Homo sapiens: one gene and its partners. The protein of the gene in region 3 purifies or fractionates together with the protein of the main gene of each other region. This does not show direct contact. Each region holds a gene or a part of one and is shown on either strand. Other genes may lie near its edges. The genes, in order: ABAT, EHD2 and ZSCAN29.

What was found.
Region 1: the proteins of ZSCAN29 (region 3) and ABAT purify together in Homo sapiens (affinity purification with mass spectrometry; 2 studies listed by BioGRID and IntAct, with this or other methods). This does not show direct contact.
Region 2: the proteins of ZSCAN29 (region 3) and EHD2 purify together in Homo sapiens (affinity purification with mass spectrometry; 2 studies listed by BioGRID and IntAct, with this or other methods). This does not show direct contact.

What each region holds. Positions count from the first base shown.
Region 1 is NC_000016.10:8,674,612-8,686,525, reverse strand, and holds the start of ABAT (4-aminobutyrate aminotransferase, mitochondrial isoform 1 precursor), read right to left. Parts: upstream 11,910-11,914; 5' UTR 11,815-11,909; intron 3,268-11,814; exon of another isoform or gene 2,975-3,267; intron 1-2,974. UniProt on the Homo sapiens protein: Catalyzes the conversion of gamma-aminobutyrate and L-beta-aminoisobutyrate to succinate semialdehyde and methylmalonate semialdehyde, respectively. Can also convert delta-aminovalerate and beta-alanine.
Region 2 is NC_000019.10:47,714,206-47,726,119, reverse strand, and holds part of EHD2 (EH domain-containing protein 2), read right to left. Parts: intron 9,563-11,914; 5' UTR 9,508-9,562; coding exon 9,104-9,507; intron 7,612-9,103; coding exon 7,514-7,611; intron 309-7,513; coding exon 1-308. UniProt on the Homo sapiens protein: ATP- and membrane-binding protein that controls membrane reorganization/tubulation upon ATP hydrolysis. Plays a role in membrane trafficking between the plasma membrane and endosomes. Important for the internalization of GLUT4.
Region 3 is NC_000015.10:43,357,675-43,361,043, forward strand, and holds the end of ZSCAN29 (zinc finger and SCAN domain-containing protein 29), read right to left. Parts: 3' UTR 501-3,369; downstream 1-500. UniProt on the Homo sapiens protein: May be involved in transcriptional regulation.

The DNA of each region.
Region 1 (11,914 bases), on a different chromosome or scaffold from region 3:
CAGCCAATGTGAGTGGCTACTACTCATGGGTCATTGTCATTATCATGGGTAAAGCTGGAGCCAAAACTCTGTCCAGGGTTCTCTGCATGTTTTCTCCCACTCACCCTGCCAGCCTGCCTCTGAATCCCTCCTGGAACCTGTCCCCAGGTCAGAATGTCCACACTCTTCTGTGTGTGGCTCTTTTTTGAGCCCTGCTTCCAGCCCCTTGCAGGACTGGACACTTAGGGCTGGGGCAGGATGCCAGGCATGCAAATTTGCATGCAGGCATTCATTTGCACAAATGCTCCTTGGTGTGTGCATTTTCAGCCTGTCCCCAGACCGGCGCTCAGCCTGCGAAGCCAGCAGAGTGCTATTTACAGCTCTGGGCAGAGAGAGGAGGCAGGCTTTGTTCCCGTGCACAAAACAGCCCTGTCCTGCCGGGGTGGTGCCTTGCTCTTTTGGCTGGTGTTCAGCCAACCTTGCCCTGAAGGAGCTTCCACGTTCTAAAACCTTTTGCAGGAAGGTCAGCAATCTGCCCCTGGGATTGGCTGTTTCCCTAAGGAAATCTGAGCTCAAAGGCTAGTGGGAGAAGGTGTCTGTCTACTCTCCATTCAGCTTCCAGGAGGATCTTTCTCAAGTGATAACAAAATCACATCACTGCCTTGCTTTAATCTCTTCCATGGTTCCCTATGGGTCTCTGAGTCAAGTCCAAATTCAAGATCATGGGTCACCTGGCGGGACATGATCTACTCTTCCTACAGCCTCCTCTTGCCACTCCTCATCCACCCATGCCTCTCCATCACTTGAACATTGGTTTTTTGTTTTTTTGTTTTTTCGATGTTGCTGTTGTTTGTTTTTTTGTTTTTGTTTTGAGACAGGGTTTTGCTCTGTTGCCCAGGCTGGAGTGCAGTGGCGTAATCTTGGCTCACTGCAACCTCCGCCTCCCGGGTTCAAGCGATTCTCCTGCCTCAGCCTCCCAAGTAGTTGGGACTACAGGCGCAGGCTGCCACGCCAGGCTAATTTTTTTTTTTGTATTTTTAGCAGAGACAGGGTTTCGCTGTGTTGCCCAAGTTGGTCGCGAACTCCTGAGCTCAGGCAATCTGCCTGCCTCGGCCTCCCAAAGTGCTGGATTACAGGCGAGAGCCACCACACCCGGCGTAACATTGTTTTTATAGAAAAAGAGTTATGCACTACCTACTTACAACACAAATTTTTGGATTATCTGATTCTAGCCTTGTTCACTTGTTCATTATTATTGTTATTTTGAGACAGGGTCTCCATTGCTCAAGCTGGAGTGCAATGGCGTGATCCTGGCTCACTGCAACCTCCCCTTCCCAGGCTCAAGTGATTCTTGTGCCTCAGCCTCCCGAGTAGTTGGCACTATAGGCACGCACCACCATGCTTGACCAATTTTTTGTATTTTTGGTAGAGACAGGGTTTCACCATGTTGCCCAAGGTGGTCTCGAACTCCTGAGCTCAAGCAATCTGTCCACCTCGGCCTCCCAAAGTGCTAGGATTGCAGGCATGAACCACCATGCCTGGCCTTGTTCATTATTTTCAAACTACTTTGCTGACTCCTTTGTAAGTTGTAGAAAACTGATAGACAAGCAAATTCTGCCTTGTCCAACCATGTTTGCCTCTGTTTTGAATCTATTTAGACCTCCCTTTACTCTTTACATATTTGTGCTTTATTTGACTTTTCCTTTGAACTGGTTCTAATGTCTGCCTGGTTCCCTCATTGAATGAGCCTAATAAAATCATTGAGTGTTTTTGTATCTGTATGAGATTCATGATTTTACCCTCCACCTTTTTTTTTTTTTTTTTGAGACAGGATCTCACTCTGTTGTCCACGCTGGAGTGCAGTGGCATGATTATGGCTCAGTGCAGCCTGGCTCGGCCTCCTTGACTCAAGCGACCCTCCTGCCTCAGCCTCCTGAGTAGCTGGGACTACAGGTGCACATTACCACACCTGGCTAATTTTTAAAATTTTTTGTAGAGAAGGGGTCTTGAGGGGTCTTGCTATGTTGCCCAGGCTGGTCTCAAACTCCTGGGCTCAAGTAATCTTCCTGCCTCAGCTTCCTGAGTAGTTGGGACTACAAGCATGCATCACCATGCCCGGCTAATTTTAGTATTTTTTGTAGAGGCGGGGTTTGGCCATGTTGGCCAGGCTGGTCTTGAACTCCTGGGTTCAAGTGATCCACCCACCTCGGCCTCTCAAAGCGCTGGGATTGCAGGTGCGAGCCACCATACGCTGTCTATCCTTCCTTTTTCCCCTGCGATTTTCTTGGAACGGCTTCCTATGAACTCTCTGGGCCTGTTCATGATGCTCTCCCTGCACAGAGTCTCTTTCTCTTCTTTTCTGCCTTTTCCTCCTGAAATTTCTTCCCTAGAATCCCCAGGAACAGGGAGTGGTAACCTCTTTTTACTTTGAGCTTGAACCTGTATTCACTCCCACACACCTTCGGCACTCTCCTCACTGTGTGGTCCTTGTTTTGGGGCCTGTTTCCGCATGGCTAGTCTAGAAGAGGCGCTGGTGTAGTAGCTGAGTCTTTGTCTCTCCCTCCATCTCTCTCTCTCTCTCTGTCTCTCTCACACACACAGACACATAGACACGCACACACCCCTACTACTGTACACAGCACATGGAAATCATGCAATAAATGAACACACTCATTGACGAATGAATGCCAGATGGCTACGTCTGTCCACTCCAGATAAGCCATCAAAAGGGAGGCCTGGCTTTTCTTGTTCAATACTATAGATACCAGACAACCATGCCTGGAGTCTAGTAAGTACTCAATAAACACTGGTTGGATGAACAAAAGAATACAACTTAAGTTCTTGTTCTTGCATCACTTTCAAGTCATCTCCCCTTTCTCCAGTTTCAGAGGACAGACCTAAGTAGCTTCAGAATGCTCCCCCTACACCCCATATTTTCAGTATCATAGCAGCATTTCAGTTCTTTTCTCTCTCTCTCTCTCTCTTTTTTTTTTTTAGAAACAGGGTTCCACTATGTTGCCCAGGCTGGAGTGCAGTAGCTATTTACAGGCATAATTCCACTACCGATCAGCACAGGAGTTTTGACCTGCTCTGTTTCTGACCTGGGCTGGTTCACCCCTTCTTAGGCAAGCTGGTGGTCCTCCACTCCCAGGAGGTCACCATATTGATGCCGAACTAATGCAGACACCTGACTGGTATAGTACAGTACGGCCCAGAACTCCTGGGTTCAAGCAATCCTCTTGCCTCAGCCTCCCGAGTAGCTGGGACTACAGGCATGTGCCGCCCTGCTCAGTGGATACAGCATTTCAATCCTCTTGATCCCATTCCCTTTAAGGAGTGGAGAGTGATCTCCACTCTGCTTTCATGGTCATCGTGTGACCTTGGGCAAGGCACTGCTCCTCTGGGCTTCTGGTTTCCCACGGGTAAAGCGAGGCCAGTGTAGACATTTCAAGAGATAACGTCAGGCAAAGGTACAAATGGCCAGTAATGCCTGAAAGATGCTTCAGCTCAGGCACCAATTACATGGTAACAGATGCTGTCAATGTAACTTATCAGCAAAGCTATCCCTAGCTTAGCTCTGAGTGTGGGGTTTACAGATCTGTCTAAAATACGCTTCTCAAACTTAAAAGTGCACACAAATCACCCCAGGGGATATTGTTAAAACGCAGATTCACATTCTGTAGTTCTGGGTGGGGCCCAAGATTCTGCATTTCTAGCTAGCTCCTAGAAGATGCAATGCTGCTGGCCGCTGGACCACACTTTCAGTAGTAAGGTACTAGAATACAGTGGGTCCCACCTTTGAAGGAATTCTCAGTGCAGCCCAGGGACAGAGTGCTGGCAAGTTGCTGATATCCAAGATAATAGATGTTAGCACCTAAATGGGAGATGCTGGCAGTGAAGATTACGGGACCTCTGGACAAGGACAAGGTTGGCAGGGGTCGGGGGCTGGTCCAGGATTCCTAGAGAACATGGAAATAGAGTTGGGAGCATTCTGGCCGCCGGTGATTCTACTAAATCATAATTCTGGTGGGCAGGGGCATCAATCTGTGTTTTAACAAGCTCTTGAGGGGATTCTGATGCTAAAGTTTGAAAAACACTGTGCTAGACAGAGATAAAGGGGCAGGCTACTCTGGTTGGAAGAATAGCGTTCTGTTTTCCCACAGTGGAATTTGTAAATTGGATTCATTTATTCATCCATTCATTCACACATGTATCCATCAATCTAGCCAACCAACAAAGGGGTTGTGTCTGTCCATCCATGCATCCATCTACACCCCCAGCCATCCAACATCCAACAAATACATCCTGAATGCCTCCTCTGTGTGTGTGTGTGTGTGTGTGTGTGTGTGTGTGTGTGTGTATCCTGTTAGGCACAAGCAATCTGATTGAAATTATAGATATACACGGCTGTCTTAGCCTCTAACCGGTGATTCTCAACCAGGGGCAATCTTGTTCCCCAGGGGACACTTCATAATGCCTGGAGACATTTCTGGCTGTCACAACGTGGAGGAAGGTATGTTGCCAGCGTCTGGTGGGTGGAGGCCAAGAATGCTGCTAAACATCCGGCACAGGACAGCCTCGCTTCCACGTCAGTAGTATAGAGGTGGGCCAGGAGAGGTGGCTCAGCCTGTAATCCCAGCACTTTGGGAGGCCGAGGCGGGTGGATCACCTGAGGTCACAAGTTCAAGACCAGCCTGGCCAACATGGTGAAACCCTGTCTCCACTAAAAATACAAAAATTAGCTGAGTGTGGTGGCGGGTGCCTGTAATCCCAGCTACTCAGGATGCTGAGGCAGGAGAATCGCTTGAACCCGGGAGGCAGAAGTTGCAGTGAGCTGAGATTGCACCACTGCACCCCAGCCTGGGCAACAGAGCAAGACTCCATCTCAAAAAAAAAAAAAAAAAAGATAGCAGTCATTGGATTAGGGGCCACTCTAATGCAGAAAGACCTCATTTCAACCTAACTATTTCTGCAAAGTCTCTATTTCCAAATTAGGTCCTATTCATAGGTTCCAGGTAAACATGATCATGCCACTGCACTCCAGCCTGGGCAACAGAGCAAGACTCCCTCTCAAAAAAAAAAAAAAAAGTGTAGAGGCTGAGAAACTTTGCAGTAGACTGTGAGTTCCTGATAGGCAGGAACTGGTGGTATTCCCAGGATCACAAGATAGTGTGTGACCTACAGGAGCTGAGCAAATATTTAAGTGGATGAAGAAATAGTGACACAAAGAAACATTTATTTATATAAAGAACTCTGGGCCAGGCGAGGCAGTTCACACTTGTAATCCCAGCACTTTGGGAGGCCGAGGTGGGAGAATCGCTTGATCCTAGGAGTTCAAAACCAGCCTGGGCTACATAGGGAGACTCCATCTCAACAACAACAAAAAAATGCTTTTTAAAAAATTAGCCAGGTGTGGTGGCACCTGTTGTGCCAGTTACTTGGAAGACTGAGGCAGAAGGATTGTTTGAGCTTGGGAAGTCAAGGCTGCAGTAAGCTATGATCATGCCACTGCACTCCAGCTTGGGTGACAGACAGGGTGAGACTCTGTCTCAAAAAAAAAAATAGATAAATAAAAAGAAAAAGAAAAAGAGAAAAGAAGAACTCTTACAGCTCAAGAACAAAAAGACAAAAAGACAACTCAATTCAAAAATGGGCAAAGAACTTGAGTAGACATTTCTCTGAAGATAATATACAAATAAGCAACAAACACATAAGATGCTCAATGCCATCAGTCATTAGGGAAATGCAAATCAAAACCACAATGTGGTATTGCTTCACACCTGCCACAGTGACCCCAATGATAATAATCAAAAAATGGAGGTCGGGCGCAGTGGCTCATGCCAGTAATCCCAGCACTTTGGGAAGCCGAGGCAGGCGGATCACTTGAGGTCAGTAGTTCAAGACCAGCCTGGCCAACATGGTGAAACCCCGTCTCTACTAAAAATACAAAAAAATTAGCCGGGCGTGGTTGTGGCCCACACATGTAATCCCAGCTACTTGGGAGGCTGAGTCAGAATTGCCTGAACCCAGGAGGCAGAGGTTGCAGTAAGCCGAGATCACACCACTGCACTCCAGCCTGGGTGACAGAGCAAGATTCCCCCTGCCCCCCAAAAAAATACATAAAAATAAAATGATGAAAATGGTCAATTTCATGTTATGTGTATTTTACCCCAATTTAAAAAATACTTTTCTGCATTCAGTCAATGCTCCTTGAATATCTACTGTGTGCATAGGGAAGTGTGCTATGCATTTAAGACACAAGAATAAATGTGATGGATGTGATGGCTGCTTCCAGGCAATTATGGATTGGGAAGAAATCCAGCAAACAGTGATGGACCCAAGAAATCTAGGATGTGATGGACCCAGGAAGAATAGGATGTGGCAGACCCAGGAAGTCTAGGATGTGGATGACAGGAGTTGGGAGGAGGAGAAATGGTTTTCCTGGCTGGAGGTGGGGGAGGGTCGGGGAAGACTACCTGTAAAAGACGCAATGTGAGATAGCTTTTGAAGGAGGAGGAAAACTTGCCCTTGGAGAGTCAATCTTATTATTGAAGGGATGTGTAATTAGAGGCCACATGATGCCATCCCATCCCTGCAACGGGCAAGACAGTTTAATGTGTGGAGTGTCTAGAGAAAGCAAGGATGGTTAGACCCCAGGGAGGAAGAGCTATAGCACAGACCCCCTCAGAATGCTCTCCCAGGCTTTCTGTTAAAAGCTCCTGCAGCAGAGTGGTCATGGTGGATCAGAGGGCAAAGTGAAGAAGTGAGGACAACTGATTCAGCCTGCTAAGCATTCTTGGGGCCTCAGGAGCCCCCACTGTCCTTTCTGAGGCTTTTGTCTTCTGCATCCTGGCAAGGAGCAGGCAAGCAGAGAAAAAGGCAGGAGAGACCAGGGCTCGTGTTAATTAAGCACCTACTAAGTACTGGGGGTCGGAACACATGGTTTTATGTAATCCTCACAGCGGCCCAATGAGAGAGGTTCTACTATTGCCTCCTCCTTCTACCTTTTTTTTTTTTTTTGGCTTTCATGTTTTTTCCTTTGCCTTTTAGCTATTTTAAAGTTAGAGAAATGAGGCACTGAGAGTTAAAGTGGCTGGCCTGAGGTCATCACGTGGGTGGAAGCCTGATTCAGGTGAGGTCAGTCTGACACCAGGATCCCTCTAGGTGCTCAGAGAAGGAATTTCCCCACAGTAAGGAAGGAGGCTTGGCCTGCTGAGATGAGCCTCAGATTCCTGTCTCTTGGCCCCGTAACTATCAGCAAACTCAAAGCTGAATTTCACCACTGGCAACTTCTGGTGTTAGCAAGTCTCTCAACCTCTGTGGGTTGTGCTCTATTCATTTTAATTTTTATCTTATGATTAATTATTTACAGTGTCCCTTTGTTGCCCAGGTTGGAGTGCAGTGGCTCACTCACAACTCACTGCAGCCTCAAACTCCTGGGCTCAAGTGATTCTGCCGCCTCAGCCTCCCAAAGTGCTGGGATCGCAGACGTGAGACAAGGTGGCCAGCCCACTTTGCTCATTTTTAATGCATGGGAAGCTGGCGGAGATTTATTTTCTTCTTCTTCCCCCAGGAATATGTTCTCATACATACATACTATCTAGGTCCTTTTAATTCCCCACTTCCCTAACTATCCATGTTCATGCATATTTACATTTAAAAAAAAATAGGATCATACTGGCTATGTTGATTCTGTGACTTTATCTTTTTCACTAAATAATATGACTCAGGAACCTTTCAAGGTCAGGAATGTGGATCCACCTCATTCATCTAAAATCTACTCATTCTCCCACATGAATGCATATACTGTAATCCCTTCCCATACCAGTGTTGCAAGCTCTGCCATGGACATTTTTATGTTATGTCAGTGCAAGTGTGAGCATTTCTGTGTGAGATTTTTCAAAGTGGGATTGCTGGACCAAAGAGCATGCCATTGAAGTTTCGAAAGACCCTGATAACTAATCTGAAGAAGGCCCAGAACTCAGTTGTTTCTCAAACAATTTCTGGCATGGATGTTTCTCTGATGCCTGGTGGAGAAGCGGGTGATGGTCTTAGACAAGTCTTTTAACCTTTGTGAGGCTTAGTTTGCTTATCTGTAGAGTGAGAAACAGTGTCATAGACACAACAGTGCTTTGGAGATGATAAGGTCCTGTGTAGGTTGGGTGCTGTGGCTTATTCCTGTAACTCACACTTGTAACCCCAGCGCTTTGGTTGTAACTCACACTTGTAACCCCAGTGCTTTGGGAAGCCAAGGCGGGAGGATCGCTTAAGCCTAGGAGTTAGAGACCACCCGACTCTGTCTCTACTAAAGAGAAAAACAAAAACCAGACAAGAAAGTCTTGTGTAAATGTGAGAAATTAAAAATTGTTATTAATATTGGAAGGCTCCACAGCTAGACACATCTCCTTCTCCTCATTACACAGAAACCAAAACGAGGAGCTTGTGCAAGAAAGAAGCTGTTTTTGGTTTTTATTTTGTTTTTTTTTGGAGACAGTGTCTCACTCTGTCACCCAGGCTGGAATGCAGTGGTGTGATCATGGCTCACTGCAGCTTCGACCTCCCCGGGCTCAAGCAATCCCCCCACCTCAGCCTCCCAGGTTGCTAGGACTACAGGCGCATGCCACCATGACCAGCTGATTTTTTTTTTCCTGTATTTTACAGAGATGGGGTTTTGCCATGTTGCCCACGCTGGTCTCAAACTCCTGGGCTCAAGCCATCCACCCGCCTCAGCTAGGAAGCTGTTTTATATTAAGTATCAACTATGTTTAAGGCCATGTATTAGACCAGCAGTTCTCAATAGCGAAGGAAAAGGATGATTTTGCTCCCCAGGGCACATCTGGCAATGTCTGCAGACATTTCTGATGGACATGACTCATGGGGTAGGGAGTGTCACTGGCATCTAGTGGGTAGAGACCAGAGGCGCTGCTGAATATCCTACAATACACAGGGGAGTCCCACAACAAAGAATCCTCTGACCCAACTGTCAACAGTGCCCAAAATGAGAACCCCTCATCTAGACCTGTCTCTTTTCTGATGTCCAACCCCAACAAACCTCATTCAAAGACGAGGAACTGAGGTTCAGAGACATGAATGACTTGCCTAAGTTTCCATAGACAGCCACTACCAGTGGCCAACTCTCTACTCCATCTGGCTTCAGGGTCTGTGGTCCATTCCACATACTACACTGTCTCTCTAGGAAGACATCCCCTTGTCCCCAGGCACCTTGGCCCTGGCAGATTATCTACGGCAAGGGTTACAAGTTTTGCCTTAAGGCATAAGCACCTCCCCACTTCATGATTAGAGGTTTTATGACTTTGCACTTGTAATCATTGTTTCTGCTCATTTTGCTGTGTGCTAAACATTTTATGAGGATTAACTCATTTTACCCCAAGGATATGTCACAGAGAGGTTAAGATCAGACACTAAGTGGCAGATTTGTGCTCTCGACCCAGATAAGAGGTCTCCAGGGACCAACCTCTCGGCCTCTCTACCGTGGTCCTCCTCATGCTTTGAACTTCGCCTTGGCAAAGTTGGGGCACAACAACCAATCCTTTAGCTGGGAACTGGGTGGGGGCAGAAACAGAGAGAGCCTCTACTTCAGACCATGCTGCCCAGCTGGGTGGTCCTAGAGAATCTGCCAGAATTTCAGCTCTTTTCCCATGCAATGCCCCAGGAGAAAAGACGCAGGCCTCTGAACAGAGATGAGACAATGTGCAGGGAACTCAAAGCCAGAGGGCGTGGGCAGGGGCTAAGAGGGAGGGGACCTTGGAGGGAAGGAATATGACATCCTCAGGACCTGTCCAAAGTTCTTGGAGCAAACCCAGCTATGCAAGTGAGGTTCCTGCAGTAGCCTCCACTCCAGCATCTCATTCTCATTAGCTGCAACTGATCTTATTAGCTATCCTGGGTCAGTTTGGATTTTGGCAAGCCTAGATTTGGCAATGGCCTCAACACAAAGATCGCACGGGGTAAGCAGGGATGCGCTGACACCCAGGAATGGATTCCACGAGGCAGCCTGCTGGGGGATGGCATTGAGTTCCAGCTCTGCCCCTTCCTGGCTTCATGACCTTTGCAGAGCCTTGGCGCTTCCTCTGACAAGTGGGGACTTGGGACCCAGCAGTCCCCAAGTCCCCATTGTAAATGTGAGGACTGGGGCTTGTGTCAGGGATCCTAGCACCTTAAGGGTCCTGGAGGGGTTGGGGCCAGCTGTCTCCCACAGGCTGGGTGACCTTGAGCAAGTCTCTTCCCCTTTTGTGCCTCTGTGTGTTTAACTGTCAAATGAAGGGGCCACGTCTTTAATGCAGAAGCCCTTTTAGGTCTTAGGACTCCAGACTGGACCATTTACCTCTCCCCGTGGCTAACCTCTTTGGGCCTCGAGAAAACACATTTCTCTATGACTCCACGCCGCAACACAGGCTCCAAAGAGCAAGACACAACTCACTGCCTCCCTCTCTCCTGCCTCCCAACCTGACCCACCAGAGAAGAGCTCTTCCCACCCCCTCCCCACCCCCAGGTCACCAACATCCTGTCCCTTAGTCTAGCTTCATCAAAGCAGCAAAGCCAACACTGTCTCCTCCCCAGTGGATGGGCCCAGCAGCACCCATTTCTCTTGGCTGAGTGCCCAGGGAATTCCACCAGGCAATGTCCACAGGCGCTTGCGGGGGTGCACACTTTAGGGGGGAAATGCGGGCCCTCTTGGAAGAGGGCCAGCTGTCCTCCCAGACTGCAAGAGAGAATGCATTGAACACAGCCTTTGTGCGTGTGTTGGGGCAGGGAGCGGGGGAGAGGTGGCGGGTGGTCTCTGCTGGTCCTGCTGCCTCAGAGGCCATCTCTGTTGTCAGAGTTTGAAGACTCCTGGAAGGGCCTCTAGGCCCCAGATCCCAGTTTTAAGAGCTCCAGTCTTACTAAATCTCGCTGAACCCCCTCTAGTCTTACCTTGGCCAGGGTGGGTGAGGAAAGGTGAGAGGATGTGAAATAGGTGGGGCAGCCAGGTGTGGGAGTGGAGTTGGGGTGAGGTGGAGAAGGATGGGATTGGGAGCGGTGGGAGGATGGTGCAGGGGGTTACTAGGATGGGGTTTGTGTGAAAGGGCTTGGGTGGAGTGGAGGGAGGTGGATGACTTGGAGGGGTGGCCAGACCTTTGCCCTGCTCCTGAGTATGAAGGTCCCTCATTTTACATCTTTACTGGGGAGGAGAGGGGAAATCCCCAAAAGCCTTTAATGTGGTGGTGTCAGAGGCCACCCTGCCTCTCTGACGGGTAGGGAGGGGTCTCCGGCAGGGCTAAGGGTGAATCATCTATCTCTCCAGAGCCCAGTATCTGGGGTGGGAGGGTGACTTGCAGAGTCTCTGCTCCGGGATTTCCTTGTCTTATGATGGGGGGAGAGCTTCCATTTGTCATGGAGGGGGAGGTCACTGTAATTTATAAGCTGAGAAGACCCCCATTATTCCGAAAGAGAGGGGAGAAGGAAGACACCCAAACTTAGTTTTCTAAGGATGGGGAAGGGGCATCAGTCTCCCAAGAGGTGAGGGGGCTCTAGAGACCTGGAGACCACTTTTTGGGGCCGCATTCTATTTCAAGCGGTAAAAGGGAGAGGACTTCTGTCTAGAGCTGGAGCCAGGAGGAAGGGCCCATTTCTGAAGGAGAAAGGAAGGTATTTTGCTCTCTGGGGGGTGGGAGCCCCTGTCTTTTCGGGGGAGGGCCCCGCGTCTTGGGAAGATGAGGGCTCCGTTTCCAGGAGAAGATGCCCAGGTTTTGCTCCTGGGGGCAGGGCAGAAGGACCTCCTCTCGGCTCCCCTCGGAAGGGCCCGTCCCAAGCCACCCGGCGCCTCGCGCTCACCTCCAGGCCCCGTCTCCGATCTGCGGGATCCGATCCGCCGGGTTCCGACTTGCGGGATGCGCGCCCCGAGTTCCGGCAGCGCTGGGTGTCTGCTCGACTT
Region 2 (11,914 bases), on a different chromosome or scaffold from region 3:
GAGGCGCCGGTTGTCGGGCACGAGGAGGGGCTGGGACCAGAAGGAGCCGATGTAGACGCGCAGCACCTCGGGCGTGCCCACCACCTTGCCCAGCGCCCACATGAGCGCGCCGTAGACGCGCATCAGCTGCTGCGTCTCCACCATGTCGGCCTTGTTGAGCACCACGCGGATCTTGTCCTCATGGCCCCGCAACGCGCCGATGGCCTCTGAGAACTCGTCCGAGATCTCCAGCTTGTGCGCATCAAAGAGCAGGATGATGAGGTCCACGCGCTCCGCGAACCAGCGCAGCACGGCCGGGAAGTCGTAGCCTGGAGTGGGAGTGGAGAGACAGGGGCGCAAGGGGCAGAAATCAGACCCCCACCCTCCAGCCATTCTCAGTAGTATCCCATTCTCTTGCATATTGGACTGTAAAGATGTTCACGTTGTTGGCTGTCCAAATCCTGTCTGGGCAAAATAGCCAAGGCCCTCAGTGGGCACTACTGCTCTGGCTCTCCAGTGCCCAGAATTTCCCCCCTCGCTCTGGCCCCAGCCCCTCAAGCCATCTGGCTACAGGGGGCAATCATCCCCCTTTTCCTTTGCTCGAGCACAATGGCGGGATCACGCCTCCCTGCAACCTCTGCTTCCCGGAGCTCAGGTGATCCTCCCACCTCAGCCTCCCTAGTAGCTGGGACTGCAGGCGCGCATCACCACACCTGGCTAATTTTTTTTTTTTTTTTTTTTTTTGAGTAGAGATGGGATCTCACTATGTTACCCGGGCTGCCGGGCTAGTCTCAAACTCCTGAGCTCAACTGATCCTCCTGCCTCAGCCTCCAAAATGTTGGGATTACAGGCGTGGGCCACCGCGCCCAGCCTCACGGCCTCCATTTTTTCATTTGCTCATTCATTAAGCAGTTATTACAGGTGTGCGTCGGTATGTACATATAGGTTGTTAAAAATACTGACATGTTTGCTAAGAGATCCCCCTGTGCTTCTATGGAACCCCCAAGCCTGCCACATGCCTCTATCACCCCAGCTCCTCCCCAGGACCTGTTGTATCTCCCCACGATCCAGCAACTAGAGTTCATGCTGGATAGCTGTGCTCTTGCCATAGCAGATGATAATTTTTTTTTTTTTTTTTTTTTTTTTTTTTTTTTTTTTTGAGACAGAGTCTCACTCTGTCGCCCAGGCTGGAGTGCAGTGGCATGAATGTGGCTCACTGCAACCTCCACCTCCACCTCCCAGGTTCAAGCAATTCTCCTGCCTCAGCCTCCCGAGTAGCTGGGATTACAGGCATGCACCACCACCCTGGCTAATTTCTGTATTTTTAGTAGAGACGGGGTTTCACCATGTTGGCCAGGCTGAGAAGTTAAATATTTTGCATTTATTTAGCAATACTTACTGAGAGTCTCATGTGTGCCAAGCCCTGTCCTGGGAGCCTGGGATACCGCAGAGAACACACAGACAAGATTCTTGCTCTTATGAAGCACCCATCCCAGCCATGGGTTCCCATGCTCATTCATTCATTCCTTTCACCATTCATTTCCTCATTCACTCCTTCATCCACTCATTCTCACCTTTGCTTCTTCACTCATTTATTCACCAACAAGCAATGCTGAGGAGAGCAGAGAGAAGCGATTGAGACCCCCTGACTTAGCTGTCTGGAAGACCTGGAGTTGAGTCCCTCCTCTGCCCCCATCCACTGTGTGACCTTAGGCAAGTAGCTTAACCTCTCTGAACTTGTGTTTTCTTTTCTGTAAAATGCAAATCATAGGACTGTTGTGAAGCCAGGTGTGATGGCTCAAACCTGTAATCCCAGCACTTTGGGAGGCTGAAGTGGGCAGATCAATTGAGGCCAGGAGTTCAAGACCAGCCTAGCCCTAAAAATACAAAAAAATTAGCCCGGTGTTGGTGGCTCATGCCTATGGTCCCACATATTCAGAAGGCTGAGGCACGAGAATCGCTTGAGCCTGGGAGGCAGAGGTTGCAGTGAGCCGAGATAGCATCACTGCACTCCAGTCTGGGCGACAGAGTGAGACTCTGTCTCAAAAAAAAAAAAAGACTGTTGTGAAGATTAAAAGAATATAAATGAGCTAATATATATAAAGAGCTTAAAATAATGCCTGGCATTGAACTGTACATTTAAAAATGATGGAAGTGGCCAGACAGAGTGGCTCACACCTGTAATCCCAGCACTTTGGGAGGTAGAGGCAGGAGGATCGCTTGAGCCTGGGAGTTTGAGACCAGCCTGGGCAAGATGACAAGACCCTGTCTCTACAGAAAAAAATAAAATAAAAAATTATCCACACATGTTGGCATGCATCTGTAGTCTCAGCTACTCAGGAGGAGGAAGCAAGAGGATCACTTGAGCCCAGCAGTTGGAGGCTGCAGTGAGCCATGATTGCGTCATTGCACTCCAGCCTGCAGACAGAGCAAGACCTTGTCTCTTTAAAAAAAAAAATGGTTGAGCTTTTTTTTTTTTTTTTTTTTCAGACGGAGTCTCGCTGTCGCCCAGGTTGGAGTGCAGTGGCGCGATCTCAGGTCACTGCAACCTCTGCCTCTCGAGTTCAAGCAATTCTCCTGCCTCAGCCTCCCGAGTAGCTGGGATTACAGGTGCCACCACACCCAGCTAATTTCTGTATTTTTAGTAGAGATGGGTTTTCACCATGTTGGCCAGGATGGTCTCCATCTCTTGACCTCATTATCCGCCCACCTCAGCCTCCCAAAGTGCTGAGATTACAGGCATGAGCCACTGAGCCCGGCCATAATGGTTGAGTTTTTATGGCGTGTACGTTAATCCTCAATGAAACTGTTTTTTTAAAAACAGTGCTGGATGTACGGTAAGCACTCAGCAAGTCATGGTGATGTCACCCACTGGGAAGCACCCTCTGTGGTCCCTGCTGTGTGTGTGGAGGCTGAGGCAGTTTCAGCTTTGTCCTTACATCTCTCAGCCCACTGGGGACACAGACCTGGCCCCTGAGTGGTCAGCCCAGGGTGGGCAGGGGGATCCAGGGAGCTGTGGGAGCCCAGGGCCAGTGCCTGACCCAACCCCCAGCCTGGGGGTCAAGGAGGACTTCCAGGAGGAGGGAAGGCAGAGTGGGAACCCGGAGGACGAAGAGTTAACTGGCAGAACAAGGAGCTAGCCCTGATTTACTGACTTCATGCCCTCCAGCTAGAGCTCACTCAGTGACTCTTCACAACAACCCCAGGAGGTGGGCACTGTTCTGACCCCATTTTCCAGATGAGGAAACTGAGGCACAGAGAAGTTAGGGGACTAGCTAGGCGTGGTGGCTCACGCCTGCAATCCCAGCACTTTGGGAGGCTGAGGCGGGTGGATCACCTGAGGTCAGGAGTTCGAGACCAGCCTGACCAACATAGTGAAACCCCGTCTCCACTAAAAATACAAAAAAATTAGCTGGGTGTGGTGGTGGGCACCTGTAATCCCAGCTATTCGGGAGGCTGAGGCAGGAGAATCACTTGAACCCAGGAGGCGGAGGTTGCAGTGAGCCAAGGTCCTGCCACTGCACTCCAGCCTGGGCAACAAGAGCGAAACTCCGTCTCAAAAAAAAAAAAAGAGAGAGAAGTTAGGGGACTTACTCAAGACACACAGGTAAGAGGCGACAGAAGAGGAGTCCCATGGGCCCCTATGCTCCTCCGGGGAGCTGGTGCTTGCACCCATCCTGCCTGAGAGGAAGCAGCCTCCTTGCGGGCAACGCAGGGACCGGGATGGGGTTGGGGGCCGTTGTTTTGGGGGAGGAAGGGCCAAGTCACTGGAGGGACAGCAACTGGAGCCCCCCCTCCCTCCCGGTGTCTCCACAAACACACATACTGGCCCAGATTCGGAAAGTGTGTCTCATGGGGCGGGGAGGGAAGAAGGGAGAGAGGTTGAGTCAGTGTGGGATGGGAGACGTGGCAAAAAGGAACCTTGGGCCCACAACGGCACTCACCCAGCGAAAACAGGCATTGTTGGCACTTCCATAGCGCCTACTGTGTGCACACACAAGTGTGCACCTTCTAAGTGCTTTGTATGTTTTAACTAATTTAACCTTTAGGACAACTATGAGGCCGCTAGTATTATTATTCCCAGTGTGTGTGTGTGTGTGTGTGTGTGTGTGTGTGTGTGTGTGTGTGTGTTTTGTTTTTCTGTTTGTTTATTTTTGAGACCAAGTCTCACTCTATCGCCCAGGCTGGAGTGCAGTGTCATGAGCTCGGCTCACTGCAACCTCCACCTCCTGGGTTCAAGCAATTCTTCTGCCTCAGCCTCCCGAGTAGGTGGGATTACAGGCAAGCACCACCACACCCAGCTAATTTTTGTATTTTTAGTATAGACAGGGTTTCACCATGTTGCCCAGGCTGGTCTCGAACTCCTGACCTCAGGTAATCTGCCCACCTTGGCCTCTCAAACTGCTGGGATTACAGGCGTGAACCACTGCGCCCAGCCCATTATTCCCATTTTGCAGGTAAGAAAACTGAGGCAAAGAGAGGTTAAGTGGCTTGCCTAAGGTCCCACAGTTTAAAAGCAGCAGAAAATAGGCTGGGCGGTGGCTCATGCCTGTAATCCCAACACTTTGGGAGGCCGAGGTGGGTGGATCACGAGGTCAGGAGTTCAAGACCTGCCTGGCTAAGACGGCGAAACCCCGTCTCTACTAAAAATACAAAAAAATTAGCCGGGCATGGTGGCAGGCGCCTGTAATCCCAGCTACTCCGGAGGCTGAGGCAGAGAATTGCTTGAACCCAGGAGGCGGAGGTTGCAGCGAGCCGAGGTCGCACCACTGCACTCCAGCCTGGAAGACAGAGTAAGACTCCATCTCAAAAAAAAAAAAGTAGCATAACATAAATAAATAAAAGTAGCAGAGCCCAGATTTGAGGGCTTTACTATGCTACAATCACACATGCGTGTGTTCACACATCTTACATGCAGAGGCAGCCACACACATGAGCTCGCATACACACACACACACACACACACACACACACACCCCCAGTAGCACATCCAGACACAAACATAGCCAATTACTACAAGATGCAGGCTCCCAGACATACCCGTGTTCACAATCTGGGACCTACACAGATGTTTGTGGTCACACAATCACAAAGATAATGTGAGATGCACACACGGCATAGACACAGAGACCTGCACGAACACACAGGTACAGAGGCACACATGCATGCACACCCACACAGACACAGTCGCACACACATAACCTCCCATGCCCTCCCAAATCCAAAGGCACACACACAGACGTAATCACACACAGTTACACAAAAGATGCACTCCTGCACACACACACATTCTCACATACACAACACCACACAGAAGCACACAACTGTATCCGGAGATACAATCACAGGTAGTCACACACAGTCCCACAAAATCCCCGCAGCCCTGACCGCCCCATGCAGCCACACAAAGTCACACACAGCCCACAGCCCAGATACACATATATGCCTAGACCATCTCACACACAGGCACACAATGTCAGACTCACACCTACAATGATACACACTAAATCCACATAGACACATAGACAAAAGTTGCCCTTTATGTCTGTCTCTCTCACACACACACGTCACAATATAACAGTATATAGGGACAGAATCAGTTGCACACTATCCCACAAAGTCTCTCATAGCCCTACACAGCCCTTCAGAGTCACACAAAGTCATCCAGCAGGCCGGGCATGGTGGCTCACACCTGTAATCCCAGCACTTTGGGAGGCCAAGGCAGGAGGATCACCTGAGGTCAGGAGTTCGAGACCAGCCTGGCCAACATGGTGAAATCCCGTCTCTACTAAAAAAAAATACAAAAATTAGCCGGACATGGGTGCGGCGGGCGCCTGTAGTCCTGGCTACTCAGGAGGCTGAGGCAGCAGAGCCACTTGAACTCGGGAGGCAAAGGTTGCAGTGAGCCGAGATCGCGCCACTCCACTCCAGCCTGGGCGACAGAGTGAGACTCTGTCTCAAAAACAAACAAAACAAAGTCTTCCAGCCACAATTATAGGCACATGCGCACACACACACACACACACAGAGGCATGTACACAATTCAAAGTCATACAACCTCAGAGCCATGGCCACAATGAGGCACGTCCACTGCTATACACAAATGCGTGGAACCACCACACCCAGGAGTACACTCATAATGACACACTTTCCCAAGATATACACAAAGTCACACACACACACACACACACACATATACACACCAACAGCTGGACACTCTCTCCTCCTCTTCCTCTATCCTCAAGGCCAGGGAGGGAGACCCCGTTCCCCACTCCCCCACCACCCATGGCCTTTGAACCCCCCTGCCGGCACCCCTGCCCTGGCTGAGAGAGCCTCTCCCTCCCGCTGTCCCAGGTCCAGGCCCTGGGGTGGGAGCCCCAGGAATTCCTCCCCCTCAGCTGGCAGCGTGTCCTCCCAATCGTTTCTGCAGCTGCCTCCTGCCTTTCTCCCGTGGGGCCTCTGGACGGCAGCCAGAGACATGGTCACCCCCAGCGTCCCCACCCCACCCCAGGCCCAGCCTTCTCGCCAGGGCCTCCCATCCTCTCTGCCCCACATAGCAGCCTCCTTTGCCCCAGTTCTGGGCCTCCAAGGCCATGGGGGGTGGGGGACACAGATCTGTGGGGCTGGGGGACCACAGATGCTGAGCTGGGCTGGGCAGGGGTGGTGAGGGCTCAGCACGCCCGGAGGCCCCGGCTGGAATCCACCCCCCGCCACTCTCCTTGCACAGCTGTTTATAAATTCCAGGCCTGGCCTTGGCCCCCACCCAGATTCCCTTCCCATCCCCTTCTCGGCCCCATCTGTGGCCCAGACGCAGAGCCAGGAGCTCGCAGGGCCCAGCCTCCCCTGCCCGGGCTCTGCCTCCCCTGCCCAGGCTCTGCCTCATCTCCAGGCCTTGTGTCTCCCTGCGTCGCTGTCTCACTGCCTCGGAATCCCTGTCCCTCTTCATCTCTCCCTTCCCATCCTTCCTGCCTGCCCAGACGTGCGGCTCCTGCCCGCTCCCACCACGTGGTCACCCACACACCTCCCCCACCCATCAATGCGAGCCAGCATGGAGCAGTCACAGCTTCCACTAGCTCCCTGCGGCTGCCCCGCCAGCCAGGGCCAGAGGACACAGGCCCAAGTCCCAGCGGAGACACCGCCCCTCCTCCTCTAGACCCAGGAGTCCAGACCCCAGGCCCTCCTACCTCAGACCCAGGAGTCCAGGCCCAGCCCCTCTCCCTCAGACCCAGGAGTCCAGGCCCCAGCTCCTCCTCCCTCAGACCCAGGAGTCCAGACCCCAGTCCCTCCTCCCTCAGACCCAGGAGTCCAGGCCCCCAGCCCCTCCTCCCTCAGACCCAGGAGTCTGGGCCCAGCCCCTCCTCCCTCAGATCCAGGAGTCCAGACCCCAGCCCCTCCTCCCTCAGACCCAGGAGTCCAGACCCCAGCCCCTCCTCCCTCAGACCCAGGAGTCCGGGCCCAGTCCCTCCTCCCTCAGACCCAGGAGTCCAGGCCCCAGCCCCTCCTCCCTCAGACCCCAGGGTCTGGCCCCACTCACCGCGGCTCACTCTCTGCTTGGCACCCGACAGGATACCCGGGGTGTCGATGATGCTGATGCTCTCCAGGACCTGATTAGGGAGCTGGGCACACATGAACCTGGGGGCAGAGGGAGGGTCAGGGGTCAACAGGGAAGGACAGAAGGAGGGAAAACACGAAGAAAACATGAAGAGGGACTCGGGACCGCATGGCAAAGCATCCTTTATGGGCGAAGAAAGACACCGGACAGAAAAAGGGCAACCAGGACCATCTCAGAGTTATAACCAGCCACAGCTCATGTTCAGTGAGCACTTAATTTGTGCCAGGTACTGTTCTTTTTTTTTTTTTTTTTTTTGAGACAGAGTTTTGCTGTTGTCGCCCAGGCTGGAGTGCAATGGCACTATCTCAGCTCACTGCAACCTCCGCCTCCCGAGTTCAAGTGATTCTCCTGCCTAAGCCTCCCGAGTAGCTGGGATTACAGGTGGGCACCACCTCACCCAGCTAATTTTTGTATTTTTAGTAGAGACGGGGTTTCACCATGTTGGCCAGGCTGGTCTCAAACTTCTGGCCTCAAGTGATCTGCCCGCCTCAGCCTCCCAAAGTGCTGGGATTACAGGCGTGAGACACTGCGCCCGGCCACCAGGTGCTATTCCAAGTCCTCACAGCAACCATGGCATAGAGACCATGGTGATCCTGATCCCTTTTTTTTTTTTTTTTTTTTTAGACAGAGTCTCGCTCTGTTGCCCAGGCTGGAATGCAGTGGCACGGTCTCGGCTTACTGCAACCTCCGCCTCCCAGGTTTAAGCAATTCTTCTGCCTCAGCCTCCCGAGTAGCTGGGATTACAGGCACGAACCACCACACCCAGCTAATTTTTTGTGTTTTTGGTAGAGACGGGGTTTCACCATGTTGGCCAGGCTGGTCTCCAACTCCTGGCCTCAAGTGATCTACCTGCCTTGGCCTCCCAAAGCGCTGGGATTACAGGTGTGAGCCACCGGGCCTGGCCCAAGGTGATTGATCCACATTTTTGCAGATGAGGCTACAAGAAGGGCAGAGAGGTCAAGTCATTTGCCTGAGGCCACCCAGCTGGCCGGGATTTGAACCAGGCATACTGACTTCACTAGCCTAGGTGCTCCCCTGGATAAGAGAGCAGAGACAGGCATGGGAAGAACTGGGTAGAGAGAAGGGAATTGGGGCTGAGAAGGAGGGAAACACAGTCAGGGAGGGGACAGAGAAGGGGGACAGCAAGATGCACCCCTGGGACAGAAAGACGTGCCCCCAGGGCCGGGCGCAGTGGCTCACTCGTGTAATCCCAACACTTTGGGAGGCTGAGGCAGGTGGATCACTTGAGGCCAGGAGTTCAAGACCAGCCAGGCCAACATGGTGAAACCCCAACTGTACCTAATAATACAAAAACTCGCTTGGCGTGGTGGTGGGTGTCTGTAATCCCAGCTACTCAGGTGGCTGAGGCAGGAGAATTGCTTGAACCCAGGAGGTGGAGGTTGCCATGAGCTGAGATCGCACCACTGCACTCCAGCCTGGGCGAAAAGAGCGGAAACTCTGTCTTAACAAAAAGAAAAAGAAAGATGCGCCCTGGGCTCGCGGCTGGCACACCTGTTGAGGAAGGTGTTTCCGAAAGGGTTGAGTTTGCGGAAGGGCTTGTCCGGGTCCACGACGAGGGCGTTGCCGGGCACGGTGCCCTCAGTGTCCCCGTGCATGACGGCCACAAAGCAGTCGGTGGTGGGCTCAGGCCCCACGCGGGAGCCGGGCACCTCCTGCTCCAGCAGGTACTGGATGAAGCTGGTCTTGCCCGTGCTGTACTGGCCGGCCACCAGCACCATGGGCTTGCCGTCGAAGTCTGCGTCCTCCAGGGCCGGCGAGTGGAAGGCCCCAAAGCGGTAGTGCTCCTCCAGCGGCAGCAGCTTCGTGCGGTACAGCTCCTTGAGGGCCGAGGTCACCGTGCGGATGGCCTCGGGCTGCTGGCCCCGTGCCCCGCCCCGCTTCAGCCAGCTGAACATGGTGGCTGCACACCGCTCACGGGGTTCACGGAGAGACGTGCAGATGGAGAGCTGCCTGTGGGAGGGGGAGAGGGCATGAGCATAGGCGGCCCAGCCAAGGAGGAAGAAAGGGGTCTGAGTGTAGACTGTCTGGGTGACAGGATGGGTGGAGGAGGAGGAGGAGCACAGATATTTGTGGTCACAAATATGTGGTCACAGAGCATGGATGGCAGGTGGCAGGAGGAAGAATGGAATTGGGCCAGGCGCGATGGCTCACACCTGTAATCCTAGTATTTTGGGAGGCTGAGGTAGGAGGATTGCTTGAGGTCAGTAGTTGAAGACCAGCCTGGGTAAAATAGTGAGACCCCCATCTCTACAAAAAAAATAATTAGCTGGGCATGGTGGTGCATGCCTGTAGTCCTAGCACTTTGGGAGGCTGAGGCAGGAGGATTGCTTGAGCTCAGGAGTTCAAGGCTGCAGGCTGCAGTGAGCTATGATCATGCCGCTGCACTCCAGCCTGGGCTACAGAGTAAGACCCCATCTCAAAAAAAAAAAAAAAAAAAAAGGCCAGGCACAGTGGCTCATGCCTGTAATCCCAGCACTTCGGGAGGCTGAGGCAGGTGGACCACCTGAGGTCAGGAGTTTGAGACCAGCCTGACCAATATGGTGCAATCCTGTCTCTACTAAACATACAAAAAATTAGCCAGGCCTGGTGGTGGCCACCTGTAGTCCCAGCTACTTGGGAGGCTGAGACAGGAGAATCACTTGAACCCAGGAGGCAGAGGTTGCAGTGAGCCGAGATCCCGCCACTGCACTTGACAGAGCGACACTCCATTTCAAAAAAAATAGGGAGATCGTAGCGAACCAGCTGAAGGAGGAGAAAGATTAATGGTGACATGGTTGAAGAAGGGGGATTGATGGTGGTAGTGGAAGACCAAGAGATGGACAAGGCGAAGGATGCAGAAGCTGCCTGGAAGAAACGGATTCCTTAATCGCTTCATTCATTTCTTCCTCCCTTCTCCCTTCCATCATTTGACACCTTTTCACTGAAATCACTCACTCCATGCTTCAGGCACTGTGGACCCAGAAATGAGCCAGAGATCATCCCCTACCCACCCAGGGCCCCCAGTAAGGACCCAGACACATGCCAGACATCCAGAGGAGGGCATGAGAAACAGACCACAGCACCAGTAAGACTCAGGGCAGGGTTGACTTTTGAGCTGCTCCATGAAGAGCAGGCAAGACAAGGGGATTTAGGCAGAGAGGACGGTGCGTGCAAAGGTCTGGGGATGTGAAAGGTCCTGGTGTACTGGGAGCCATGAAACATCTGGGTAGGTGGCCAGACACAGGGGCACAAAGAGGAGGGGTGAGAAATGGAGCTGAGAAGGTTGCCTGGGTGCACCCAGGTCATGAGGGCTGTTGGGTGTTAACAAGAAAAATAATGCAACATTTATGATCACTGCATGCCAGGTACTGTACTAACTCACTTAACATTTATAACCCTGTAAAGTAGGTCTATTATCATCCCTGCTTTGCTTTGCTTTTCTTTCTTTTTATTTATTTATTTATTTATTTATTTATTTATTTATTTATTTGGAGATGGAGTCTCACTCTGTAGCCCAAGCTGGAGTGCAGTGATACAATCTCAGCTCACTGCAGCCTTCACCTCTGGGGCTCAAGGGATTCTCCTGCCTCAGCCTCCCAAGTAGTTGGGACTAGAGGCATGCACCACCACACCCAGTTAATTTTTTTTTGTATTTTTAGTAGAGATGGGTTTCACCATGTTGCCCTGGGTGGTCTCGAACTCCTGAGCTCAGGTGATCCACCCACCTCAGCCTCCCAAATTGTTGGGATTACAGGTGTGTGCCACCATGCCGGCTCATCTCTGCTTTTTTAACAAGGCAAAGGAGGCTCAGGAAGACAGCAATAAATTACCCAAGATCACTTAGCTGGAAAATGCTCAAGCTGGGACTCAAACACAGGCAGCCTGACCTCAGAGGTTGCAATCCTATTATAGGTCTAAAGATCTGAGTTAGGGAGGTTAGCCATGACCAACCCAGGAGCAATGAGCACCTCCAGCACCCAGACTGTGTTCTCTATCTTCCCTTACTAGCCTTTTATTCACCGTAGGATCTGTAGTGATGTCCCCTCTTTCATTCCCGATATCAGCCACAGGTGTGGGTATTTGCTTTTTTTAAAAAAGAAAAACAAAAACGATTGCTCCCCGTTGATGCTTATGATTTTACTGATCTTTTCAAAGAATCAACTTTTGGTGAGATGGGAGTCTCTAAATACCATTCCCCACTAAAAGAACCTGGGACTCCTTAGAGAAATGGTGGATTCCAGGGCGGGGGCAGGGAAGAACAAGTGAGCCTGGGTCAGAAGGTGAGGAAGTGCTCAAAGGCCGATAGGGCATGTTACAGGGACA
Region 3 (3,369 bases):
GGAGTTCAAGACCAGCCTGGACAACGTAGACCCCTCATCAATACAAAACTTTAAAAAATTAGCTGAGTATAGTGGCTCATGCCTGTAGTCTCATCTATTGGGGAGGCTGGGGATCACTTGAGCCCAGGAATTTGAAGCTGCAGTGACCTATGATGGCACCACTGCACTCCAGCCTGGGCAACAGAGTGAGATCCTATCTCTAAAAAATAAATAAAAATTTAAAAAATAAGACTCTGCATGCCCAGTTATCTTGGGTCCTAATTTATTGTGGATATGGATAGAGGTACAAAGGAAGGATTTGCATTCTAATTTCCCTTTTACCACAATCTGACTTATTCCTCTTTCTAGAATATAAAGATTCAGATAAGCATACTTCTAGTAAACCCACACAAGGAGTTAAAAAAAGAAAGATTGGTCTTTTCCTGCCCTCCATAACTTGATCGTAATTTGTGTATATATATACACACACACACATAAACACTTCAAGAAACACCAGGCACTTTATAGACATGATTTTTATTAATATGGTATCCCTGAGAGACAGATTAGGTGTAAACATTATTTTGCTTTACAGAAAGGGAAATGGAGGCAGGTTAACTTACAAGACATCTGGAACCAGAATATCTGTTGATACCACAACCAATGCTTTTCCCACGAGACTATACATAGATATACTAAAGACAATACTTTTTTTTTTTTTTGACATTACAGCACACTTCCTAAATCATCTGAGATCCTGAGGCACTGCTTCAGACTGGTGTTTCTTGTAGCTTCCTGTCTGCTTAGGCAACATAACAGAAGTACCATCTTCCCTTAATTCCTAATAAATATTAGATTTTTTTGTACTAAGATTCAACAGCAGAATCCTAATTAATCTCTAACACAACAAGCTATGAATTATAGAATACTATATCTTCCTACTGCTCTCCCTGATCTTATTCCAGCCACAGAATTCTAATTGAATGTGAAACGGCTACTTATCCCAGTCCTTGGCCATCTGGCCATGTTTATCTTTCTTCTCACCTGCTCATCAAAATATCTTCATCAGATACTACGATTTCTGACCTTTATCTCCCATAGGAGCTAGTCCCCTAAAACTGCTTATTCTTTCAGTGGCAGTCAGCTGTTTCCTTATCAATAGTTATAGCGTAGTACCTGATTTACTATAGATGATGGTTCTACCACCTCATGGTCTGCTCCTAACACCCATGTTTCAGCTAAGGTGATTCTCTCTGCCTGCTGCACAGCCCATATCATACTATTCCTCAAGTTCTCATGCTACTCCAAGCTTTATCTGGCCTTCCTTACAGTCTATCCTTTGCCCTTTGTTCCATCTACACAAAACACCTTGCTCCCCCTTTTTCCCATTCCTCAACCCACCCAGCACTCAATTTTGCAACTAGTTATGGAAAGTTCTTCCTATCATAATTTAACCAGTAACCTTCCCTCCTTTGACCACTTCCTGCTTCATGAAGCCTTCCTGAATAAAGAGAAAAAATACCTCCCAGATTTTTGTTAAAGCAAACTAATGCATTGGACCACAACATTTATGCATAGTGTTGCTACCTAGCTTTCTAGATTTCTCTAAAACTGCCGCAACTATGCATGTGCACTTGTTTGTCCATGTCAGTGTCATCTGCTTTAGATTGTAAGGACAAGGAGAGGACCTGTTGACCTTGTGCTATACAGGGCTCATCATACTATGAGCATATGGGCAGTTAATACTATTGTATTATAAAGATGAGTAATTATATTTGCATTTAAAGAACTGCTTTTAATTGTATTCAGTTGAATGTGTATGTCTAGATTGGCAGCTCCACTGGCCAAAGATAATCCATCTTCCCTGCCATTAGGGTAAAGGGCCTGTTCGCACACAGTAGTCCATTTTCCCAATACACGGGAATGTGGCAGTGGCTTCTGCTTATTGCAGGTAAGTGCCCATGGAGGGCATAACACTATACCAGGTGTGTGGAATATGGACGAGTTCCTATTGGCAGCTTTAACTGCTCTACCTGTCACCACATGCAGCTGCGTTGCTCTGTGGAACTTCTGGACCACAAGAGACAGACGAAATTCAGATGAGACTGGACAGAAAGAAAACCAACCTAAATCCTGTAAATGTATTATTCTATTCCAACCCTTCTTCTAGGACTCAGAAGAAACTAAGAAATCCAGGGTTCACACTTCAGTATAAGGTTTTCATTGTTTCTGCATAAGAACACCTGTTCTTGACAAGATGATTCATAGGGCAGAACCAAGATGGACATTAAACTCTCCTTCTTTAAGGTAAATGAAGAGGGTGCCTGACAAATATGTCATTTTGAGCACAGGTTTAAGTGAGCAGGAAGAGTCATTCATTTTAGCATTTCCATTATTGTATAAAGAAGAGCTGGGCCGGGTGCAGTGGCTCACACCTGTAATCCCAGCACTTTGGGAGACCTAGGCAGGCAGATCATGAGGTCAATTCAAAACCAGCCTGGCCAACATGGTGAAACCCCATCTCTACTAAAAATGCAAAATTTAGCCTGGTATGGTGGCAGGTGGCTGTAATCCCAGCTACTCAGGAGGCTGAGGCAGGAAAATTGTTTGAACCCAGAAGGCAGAGGTTGCAGTGAGCTGAGATCATGCCACTGCACTCCAGCCTGGACGACAGAGTGAGACTCCATCTCGAAAAAAAAAAGCCCGGCGCAGTGGCTCATGCCTGTAATCCCAGCACTTTGGGAGGCCGAGGCAGGCAGATCACCTGAGGTCGGGAGTTTGAGACCAGCCTGCCCAACATGGAGAAACCCCATCTCTACTAAAAATATAAAATTAGCTGGGCATGGTGGCGCATGCTTGTAATTCCAGCCACTTGGGAGGCTGAGGCAGGAGAATCACTTGAACCCGGGAAGCAGAGGTTGCAGTGAGCTGAGATCGTGCCATTGCACTCCAGCCTGGGCAACAAGAGCAAAACTCCGTCTCCAAAAAAAAAAAAAAGAGCTAGACCCACCTAATGGGCAAAGTCTCATAACTTCTTCTCGAAATGTAATGGGTTTTTCCTGTCAAAATGCAGCTGAATGACAGAATGAGTAAAGAAGGATGCTTATCAAATTCATAGGATCTATTACCTTGTCCTCTGTGCTTATATTAAGGGAACACCATAGGCACTGAGAGGGAAAAGATGTTATCCATCAATTCAGATGCAGGCAAAGAGAGGGACTGAAATCTTCCTTTCATTCTTTAGACTGCCTTGGGGATTTGAGTCTAGATCAGGAAAAACAAGGAACAAACAGTGGCATAAATCCTAAAGTGAATTTCCTAAGCTAACTGGACACAGAATAGTAGATGAATCTCACTATTGGAAGACTTTCTAAACAATACATTTATTGA